Linked DNA regions of Homo sapiens: region 2 is linked to region 1. Evidence: fine-mapped expression QTL. A gene starts in region 1. The other region holds a variant in brackets. All regions are shown on one strand. Distances are between the middles of the regions.

Region 1 (4,387 bases):
GCATGCTACAACAATTTTTTAAGTATATACAATTGACACAGTACAAACAACAGTACATTTGTGTACACGCTTGTATATGTGTGTATATATATATATATACACACACATATATATAAACAATTGCACATATATATACAATTCTGATTGCATAGGTACACAATCTGTTTAGCAAAATAAAGGAAACCTAAATAATGTTTTTTCTCAAGGCTAAAGTTGCTACTAATTAAAATGAAATATGTTCTAAATGATTCTGAAATTGCCTGCAGTGAGAAATACTGAGTCTATTTCCATGACACCCAAGCTGATTCTAACACTTTCCATCTTAATGAGTATCCTCAGTTGAGTTACCAGGCACTATATAACATCCTTTCAATTAGAAAAAGAGAAAAAAAGATTAAGCAAAGTAAGAACACACCATTAAGGATGAAAGTAAACAGCTAAACATTAAAGAATTAAAGAGGAAGCAGAGCAGTCTGACAGTCAAATTACAATACAGTATTGCCGCGAACCACAATCGAGTGTAGGGAAGAGTGGATATTAGAACAGCTAAGCCAAGCAATGCTGATAATATTTTAAAAATTGTTTTGAATTTTTTTTTTTTTTGCTGTTAACCTCTGTGCTGGTTTTACTCTTGAACAGGGCTAACATGTAAACATCTACAAATTCTTGTTTTTTATTTAAACGTATGCTTTTACAAATGCAAGGAACCCTTCACTGAAATAAAAAACAAACAAAAACAGAACAACAACAAACGCATCTACTTTGGACCCAGAGAAGAAGGTAAAGGCATATGTCTGATGTCATCACCACTATTTCAAGAAAAATCCACATGAACAGGGGACATAAAAGTAGTGAAAATGAGCAAGCAGTTAGGGAACTTTACATTCCAAACTCCCAAAGAGCAGGAGGAGAGACTGGAAATTTCACCCCACATTCTCTCCCCTCACTTATCACAAAAAATCACATTGTATTAGTTCAGTACCTTATGAATCAGAGACTGAATTACATTTGGCAAGAACCCTCTCTAGAGTGAAATGGACCAGAATGGAAAAACCTACACAAATAAGATAACCCACCTCCGGTCCAAGACTTGAAAATAACTAAATAGAATTACAACTGCGAAGCTATTCTTTGGAATGATGCTTTGACCAAAATAGTTCGACACACCTGCTACCAAAAAAAAAAAAAAAAAATCCCTGTTAAGAGAGACTCCTGCAACGCACAGGAGTGAAACTAATAAAATGTTCTTGGTTTCCTTTGGGCGTCAAGAAGCTGCCAGTAATAGACTTGAAGTTGTGATGCTCTTTGCAGCAAACCTCAGGAGACCAGGTGAAAAATTAGAGCACTATTGTAAGAGTAATGTCCCTGGAATAAACAATCTGCCACATCCATAGTCTTCGTCAGAAACCTGCTTATGTTCTCCTAGAAAAGTCTAACCATTCTAATAACCTCAAAGTATTTTATCTCCTAGCAGGAGGACAAAACTATGTTGTCAACTCAAAAATGTTCCTGTCATCACTGCCCTACCACTCTCTGAAGAGCCTGTAAAATATGGTTTGCAGAACTGGGTACCCTGAGACTCAGAAGGGAAAGAAGCAATGAGGTCATGCAGTCTACTCCGTCTGCCAGCTCAGGATTCCTCCTGCTGAGAATGTTCCTGCCCAAGTTGTAAACCCCACAAGATATAGGGTCATCCCAGACCCACACGGGCAGGTGCAGAAAACACAGCTGCCCACAGCAGACTCAACATAACTCACACGTGTGTGCTCATCTTTATCCACAAAGATGGAAGAGTTTGCTATGTGGGCAGGTCACCCCCGGCCCTTCTGATCCTGAGTGAGTGCCCCTGGCACACTGAGGATTCATCCTGCCCAAATTTGTCAGTCATCCTCCACAGATTCCCTGCACGCTGCTGCAGTTTACCATCGTGAACACATTTCCCCGGCTGCTGCTTCAAGGACAAAGACAGAGCACTTATATTCGTATCACAGCAGAAGAGCTCACGTTTATGGAAAAAAGATAAAAAGACAAACACTCCAGGCAAATGACCCCTGGCATTTTTGAAGCTGGATCATCCCAGACAAGATCCATGAAAACAGAGGAAATGCAGAAGGAAGGTCACTAAGCTTAGCTGGGAAGAGGGGGAACGAACGGTTCAGTTCACTGCAGCAACAGAGCAGCTCATTCAACGTAAGCACTTACCATAAAAATAGAAAGAGTCAACAGAAGGAGAAGGGATCCTTCCTCAGTGCCTTGGTGTCTTCGGCAGAAAGAAATCCACTGTGAACCTCCAGGCTCCAGTCGGGAGGAGGCCAGCAAAGTGATGACAGGCAATAAAACCACCACACACAAGTCCTTTTCAGCCTCCCCTCGGGCCGTATGCAGTTGTTTGTGCTGTAAAAACCCTGAGAAGTCTGGAACAGGACTCTCCGGAGAGCGAGCCGGAGTGAAAGCAGCCTGGTGGATTTCACCACCGTCTCAGAGCATCACGCCCAGGACTGGTCCTCCCCCTCCCCAGGTGCAGGGGAGGCATGGTCGGGGGAGGGTGGGCACTAGGCTGGGCTAGGAAAGGCGAGAAGAGGGATGAAAAGGAGTCTCTTTAGAGTGGAAGGAACTGCCGGAGAGAACATCAGTATTCCATATCAGTTATTGCCAGCGACCAATCAGCCCAGCCAGGGGGCCGTGTCAGTGTGACAAGAGAGCAGCAGATGACAGCCAGTTCTGAGAGCGGCAGGACAACCCCCTGCCTGGAAAAGAAATTTGGGAGGATTGGCAACTTATCCTCTCCACTGCTGCTGTTAATGTTTGCTTGTATTTAACAAAGATCTAAAGCCCCATAGTTACACTAGCCATGCAGGAAGTTTTTGAGGCATCCCACAGCATCTCTGCAAGAAGCCAGACTTGAAGTCCCCTAAATGATGTCTGATGGCATGTCACAGTCCAGACAGCCCTACTGATGTGCCTTCAAGGGGTCATCATGAGTACAGTAATGGCGCTTTGGACCTAAGCTTCTTTATGCCCAAAGTGCAGGATAAGATGACCAGTGACCCGGCTTTCTATTTCAGAAGTGAAAAATTTAAGACAGAGAAGGGTCAAAGGTCTCTCCAGGAATTTGACTGTCAATCTTCATTAGTTTTCTTGTATAATATAGGTATAGAAATATTGTTAGAGGTGAGCTTCTGAAGATAGTTAACATGTCCCTTTTAGAGCTCTTAAATCACCTATAAGACAAAATATGTGTTTGGGATAAACAATAATAACAATTCATAAACACACTGAAAATTGAGAAATTCTGACTTACACTAACAGAAGGAGCAAAGGAGCAAATCTCTTGGTGATAAATGAAGGATGCGTGGAGGACTCTAAACTTTTCCTACTTCCCTTTTCCCCTATTCTAATATTGAACTTATAAACTTTGTCCATATATATTAATTAATTTGTATTTGGTTGTGATGATTACATTATATAGGGATGTAGTTTCTGAAGTTAAATGCCAGTTTAATTGGACTCCACAGTAAAACTTCAGAACTTTTTGTAAGATGGGGAGATTGTCTTGGGCCACCTTTTTATCACTGCAGAAAAGATAACTCCCTTTAGTCAGTCAAGAGTTAACAGGAATATACAAATGCCCTCGGGTTTTGTTTTCTGTTTTTTTTTTCCAGGTGACTTACATGATGTAGAGTTTTTAATTTTAGTTGTCTGTTTTTACCTAGAAGTTGGAATACCATTTGCACATTTTGCTGTGATCTCTACCCGTAGGCAAGCTGACTTTGGGGAGCCTGAATACCACAGCTTAAAAGGAAGGGCTGAGCTCCAAGGAAGCAGATAACTCAGCACCAAAATGAGTCACAGCAGAAGGCCATAAAAAATGTTCCACATCAAAGATGAACATAATAAAGTGAAATTTTTTAAACGAAGAAGAAAGGATAGTTTGCCAGGGAAGTCCTTGTAAATTATATAAGGAAAACCTGGGAGACTTTGATTCTCAAATGCTGTTTTGTTATTCTCCTCAGTTCAACTCAAATCAGCAAACATTTGAAGAACATCAATTATGCATCAGGGCTACAGAGATGAGTCCTTGCCTTCAAGAAGTTTACAGTCTCATGGACAAATTTAAATCTTCTTCTTGAAATTTCAACACTATGATTCTTGCCAAGACAGAAAATGTTCTACTATTTTAATGTTCTTCAGATTAAACCAATCCATGAGGCTGGACTTTAGCCTCAAAGCTCTGAATTAGCCTAGTTAGATGTTTGTCATAACCGAAGCCATTCAGGAAATATAAATGCACAAATAATTTCTGAAATCGAATTAATATATGAGAAGGTTCTTTAACTGAATGTTTGTTTTTATCTGCATTAACGGCTTCTGACACTGTAAAAGCATG
Region 2 (4,387 bases), 78 kb after region 1:
AATATGCCTAAAATGCCATCAGCATATTGAATTATCCCCAGATGGTAACCCAGGAACCACAATGTTGAGTGTTAAATGTGCGTGCAGGTAAGAACAACTTAAATCCCAGCAAAAATGTTCTGAGCACGGGGGAAGGGGGTTGGAGGAAAGAAAAAACAGGCCACCAGACTGAAATTTGTAATCTGCTCACAATTTGTTACTGGTTCCCAGGCATCAATTGCAAACCCTCTGAGCCACCTAAATGATCATTTTAAACAATTTAAATCCAGAGAAAGAGACTGACCCTGTTAACCTTGGTAAAATGAGCAGGGGACATCACTGGCCTAGAGAATGAAGATTCCACACCAAAGAATAGTAATTTCCGTCCCACCCATCCCAGGCTTTGAGATGTCCCTGCAGAACATTCCCCATCAATTGCTCACAGCTTTCCCCTTTAAAATGCCAAATCTAGATCTTATCGCAACAACTGACTGCAAGCAAGAGGAAGGGAGGGAGGTCTACTTGAGTTTCTGCTTCCTATAACCAAGTCTCAGCAGTATTTCTGATAAAGGGCTAAAGAGAATTGCTTTATCCACACAAGCAAGAACGTTGATAAGAAGCCTTGCTGGCTTCCCCAGCGCGCTAGGATTTCTAGCTGAGCCTGAAACCTTCACACAGTGATTTTGTTTTCCTTCAGAACCATGCAATACCACACATGTATATATGTATATGTCTATTCATATATATTTATTTAACAAAACAATGGGCAGGGGAACGATGAATGCCTTCCTTTTTCATAAACTTTTATTTCCAAACTGATTTCTTTTTTTGCATTAAAAACATGTTACAGTGCATATTATTTTAACTCCACAGCATCTGTCAGAGAGATGTTCTCATCTCTCTGATTTACAGACGGAGAAATGCAGAGGCTGAAAAGTTTAAATAACTTGCCCAAGGTCAGTCAGGGACAAGATAAGCGCTGGCTGAACGCACATCTCCCAACTCCAAGCCTCACCCCGCTAGAGGAGGACTTAACACCCGCGTCCCTTCCCCTGAGTGGTCGGAAGCGAGGGGAATGTTTCTAGAGTCCCGAAGCTCCCAGATCCTCCCAAATTTTGAAGCGTTTTTCCCGCAGACACCCGGTTCCCGGGTTACCCGCGGCCCGAAACCCCGCGGAACATCGGCCCCTCAGGAGCGGCGCGCACGGCCGCCGTCTCCCTCCCTTCCAGACCCCTCCGCAGAGGCGAACCCCGAAGTTTCCCCGGGTGTTTCGACGGCTCCCTGGGCCCCTCCCTTCCGCCCCGCCGCCCCAGGAACCCGCGACGGCCCCAGTTACCGTATGCGGTGAGGGAGGCCATCCTGGCCCGCGTCCTGCCCAGACTGGCCAGGGCGTCGGCTAGAGCGGCCCCCTGCGCGCTGCGCCCCTGGACGGCCCGGCCCGGCGAGTGCATGCGCTTGGCTCTAGCGGCGCCCGGGCGCTCCGCGGCTGAGCACGCCCAGTCAGCGCGCCGCGCTCGCCCCTAGAGCTGCCGGCGCGCGGGGGCCCCCGGCCGGGCTGCGCCGCGAGAGCGGCAGGAGAGAGGGCGTAGACCGGCAGCCGCGCTCCGGGTCCCCGCGGGGATTGAACCAGCCGCGGAGGACGCGCGGCCGGGAGAGGGGAGGGGCGAAGCTGGAGGTGGGAGGTGCCCGGCAGAGGCGCGCCGCGGATTTGGCCCAGCGCAGCCGGCGTCGGGCGGGATCCCCGGTGGGTTCACGCCAAAAGGGGTGGCAGGGATGTCGTGGCAAGGGTCGGGGAGTCCCAGGCGCGCCACAGCCTCTCGGGACGGTCTCCTTTCCTAGGGAAGCTCCACTGGAGAGCGCGCCGGGGAACACATGGGGTGGGTCTGGCCGCCCGTGACTCTGGGCGCGATTCCCAGCCCAGGGGACAGTCTGGAGAAGGCTTTGCCTGTGAGACCAAAGCACAGGGGAGAGTAGCA[A/G]CCTTCTCCTGCGCACTTCTATTAGTGAAGTCGGTGACTACTAAGTACCGAACTCTGACCCCAACAGTTCAGACCTGTCCCAGTACATCATCTTATCATCTCTGTTTGTGTTTCTGTCTTACCACGAGGCGCTCACCGGTGTCCTATTCCTGCCCAGCATCTGATGAGGGCGCGAGCTCACACAAGGTTGAGTGATGGAATGTCCGAGCTGGTCTCAGCCCGCCTTCCCTATTGTGCTGGGTCTCCGTCTAGAATCAGCTGGCTGAGGAGAGGGAAAGGAGTGGGAGAGCGAGAACGAGACCCAATAAGTCGGTGGCACCCATTGCGGGATGAAGCAGGGGAAAGAGGAAGGCCGCCCAACGCCTCCTCGGGTCAGGTGCAACCCCGACCCCGTCCCTTGCCGCGAGGCTTTGCCATTCCCAAGTGTAAAGTTGAGACCACACCAAAAGGAAGGCCCAGAGGCCTCCTGGCTCGGGGTCGAAGGTCGTGATCACCAGGCCTTGTAAAACGCCCGCGCGGGAGGAATTGGGGGGCGATGGTGTCAAGGCATTAGCTGCATTTGGGGTTGCGCCTACTCGGGTGGAGGCACCGAGGGCAAATAAATCTGGCGGAGACAAAACTCGGCGTTTGTCTGGGAAGCTTCCCGCGCTCTCCAGCTCTCCAGCCGTCAGAGTTGGGCGCTTCCAACCTCCGCTTCCGCCTGCCTCCCCACTCTTCGGTGAGGGCAGCCAGGCGGCGGCGGGTGACCGGTGGACGAGGCTCTAGGATGTAGTGTCGGGGCCCACACTTACCCATGTGAGCGCAAGGCTGAGACTGCGGCCGACAGGAGGAGCCAGCCCCTAAGGAGGGCCAGGTCTGCCCAGGATAGTGGGAGCGTGGGATCTGGTCCTTTATTGGCCCTCGGTCAGCCAGCCAGCAGCCGGGTGACCCTTGGTTAAGACACCGTCTCTAAGGTTCCATTTCCCCATCTGTAAAATGGAGCTAAGCATTGCAGCTGTGCTCACCTCGCAGGGCGGTTGCAGGGATCTGGTGGGACAGGGACACTATCAGAACTGAGGCTCTGTCTTGGTGGCTGCTCCCTGCCTTGACCTTGCCCCTTGAGGGCCCCACTGGCCTCTCCCGCAGGTTTTTTTCAGCCTCACACTCTACCCAACCCCAGGCTGAAATTGCAACCGCCCACCCTTGAGCCTAAAGTGACTGGGAAACCTGCTCTCAGCTCCTGCTCTCAGCTCCTGCTCTCACCTAGCCTGGGGGCCGATGCAGGCCAGGCTTGCCTTCCCCAAGCGCTCCAAGCCTCCCCCAGACCTGGGCAGCGCCTTTGTTCTCCCTTCACCATCCCCACACCTCAGCAGCCCTGTCTGGGCACTCGTCTTAAAGTCTGTTCCACCTCTTGTGCCCCTTCCTAAGCCTGGAGATGCTTCCCCAGTCTCCTCTATGCCCGCGCTGGGCCCCAAGGCCGTTTGTAACTTATCTTCTGACATCCAGCGCTTTCTCCTCCATTTACCATCGCTGCCGCTCAGATGGAGTCATGAGGAAAGGCCATCACAATGAGTTACGAATTGCACTTTAATTCTTCTTGGCAGTTCTTTCTAATTAGCAGGAACCAAAAAGTAGCATTTAATTAATTAACCTCTCTTAAGGCTACCTGAACTTGTCCCCACATAACACCATTACAAGTCCTTGAGATATTCAGTGCCACAGTAGAATTAAGACTGAGGGGACCTGCCTGTAGTCCCAGCTACTCGGGAGGCTGAGGCAGGAGAATGGCATCAACCCGGGAGGCGGAGCTTGCAGTGAGCCAAGATCGCCCCACTGCACTCCAGCCTGGGCAACAGAGCGAGACTCCGTCTCAAAAAAAATAAATAAATAAAAGACCGAGGGGACCTGGCCTCTTTGGGAGGAATTGACAGACAAATAAACCTCCTGCCTTCATGGGTTTAAGAGCCTTCCAGTTGTTCTCAGCATCTGTGTTGTCAGGTGGTAATGAGATCTTTAAGCCGCTACCTGTGTCCTGGTCTGCAGTGGGAAGGGGTGGTCTCCACCTACCTCACATTCTTGAGGGGGACAAAGGTTAAGGAAGAATTATGACACCAGTGATGAAATACAGGGTGTTACAGAAACTCCAGGAGGAACAAGTGGTTCTGTCTTAGCAGGATTCACACACGACTTAACTAAGGCAGTGACATTTGAAAGATGAGGTCCAGGATTTGTGATTTTGCCAATAAAATTTCATAAAGACAAGCTTGTCATTCAAATTTCCTTATGTTTTATTCATTCTCCATGTTTTCAGGAGTAAAATATGAACTGCCACAACTTTGATGAAAGCTGTGTTCTAAATCTTCCCAAGAAAACACTTTTTTTCAGATGATAGATTGAGAGAAACTAGTTCTTCTTCCCTTTTCAGCATGTTCTGAACTTAAACTGACTTTTAT

Evidence for each region. PIP is the estimated chance that this variant, and not a neighbour inherited with it, causes the effect.
Region 2: its variant is the best candidate, but not a certain one, in a credible set for the expression of ANO4 in subcutaneous fat (GTEx, PIP 0.64).

The regions. Positions count from the first base shown.
Region 1 is chr12:100,792,843-100,797,229 of GRCh38, reverse strand. It overlaps ANO4 (anoctamin 4), which reads right to left and starts at 2,454. Exons shown (of 28, transcript NM_001286615.2): 1 at 2,203-2,454.
Region 2 is chr12:100,714,476-100,718,862 of GRCh38, reverse strand. It overlaps a transcript of ANO4 not described here. Among named protein-coding and RNA genes, the nearest start is that of ANO4, 78 kb to the left of the region's middle. The variant A/G (reference allele first, on the strand shown) is at 1,956.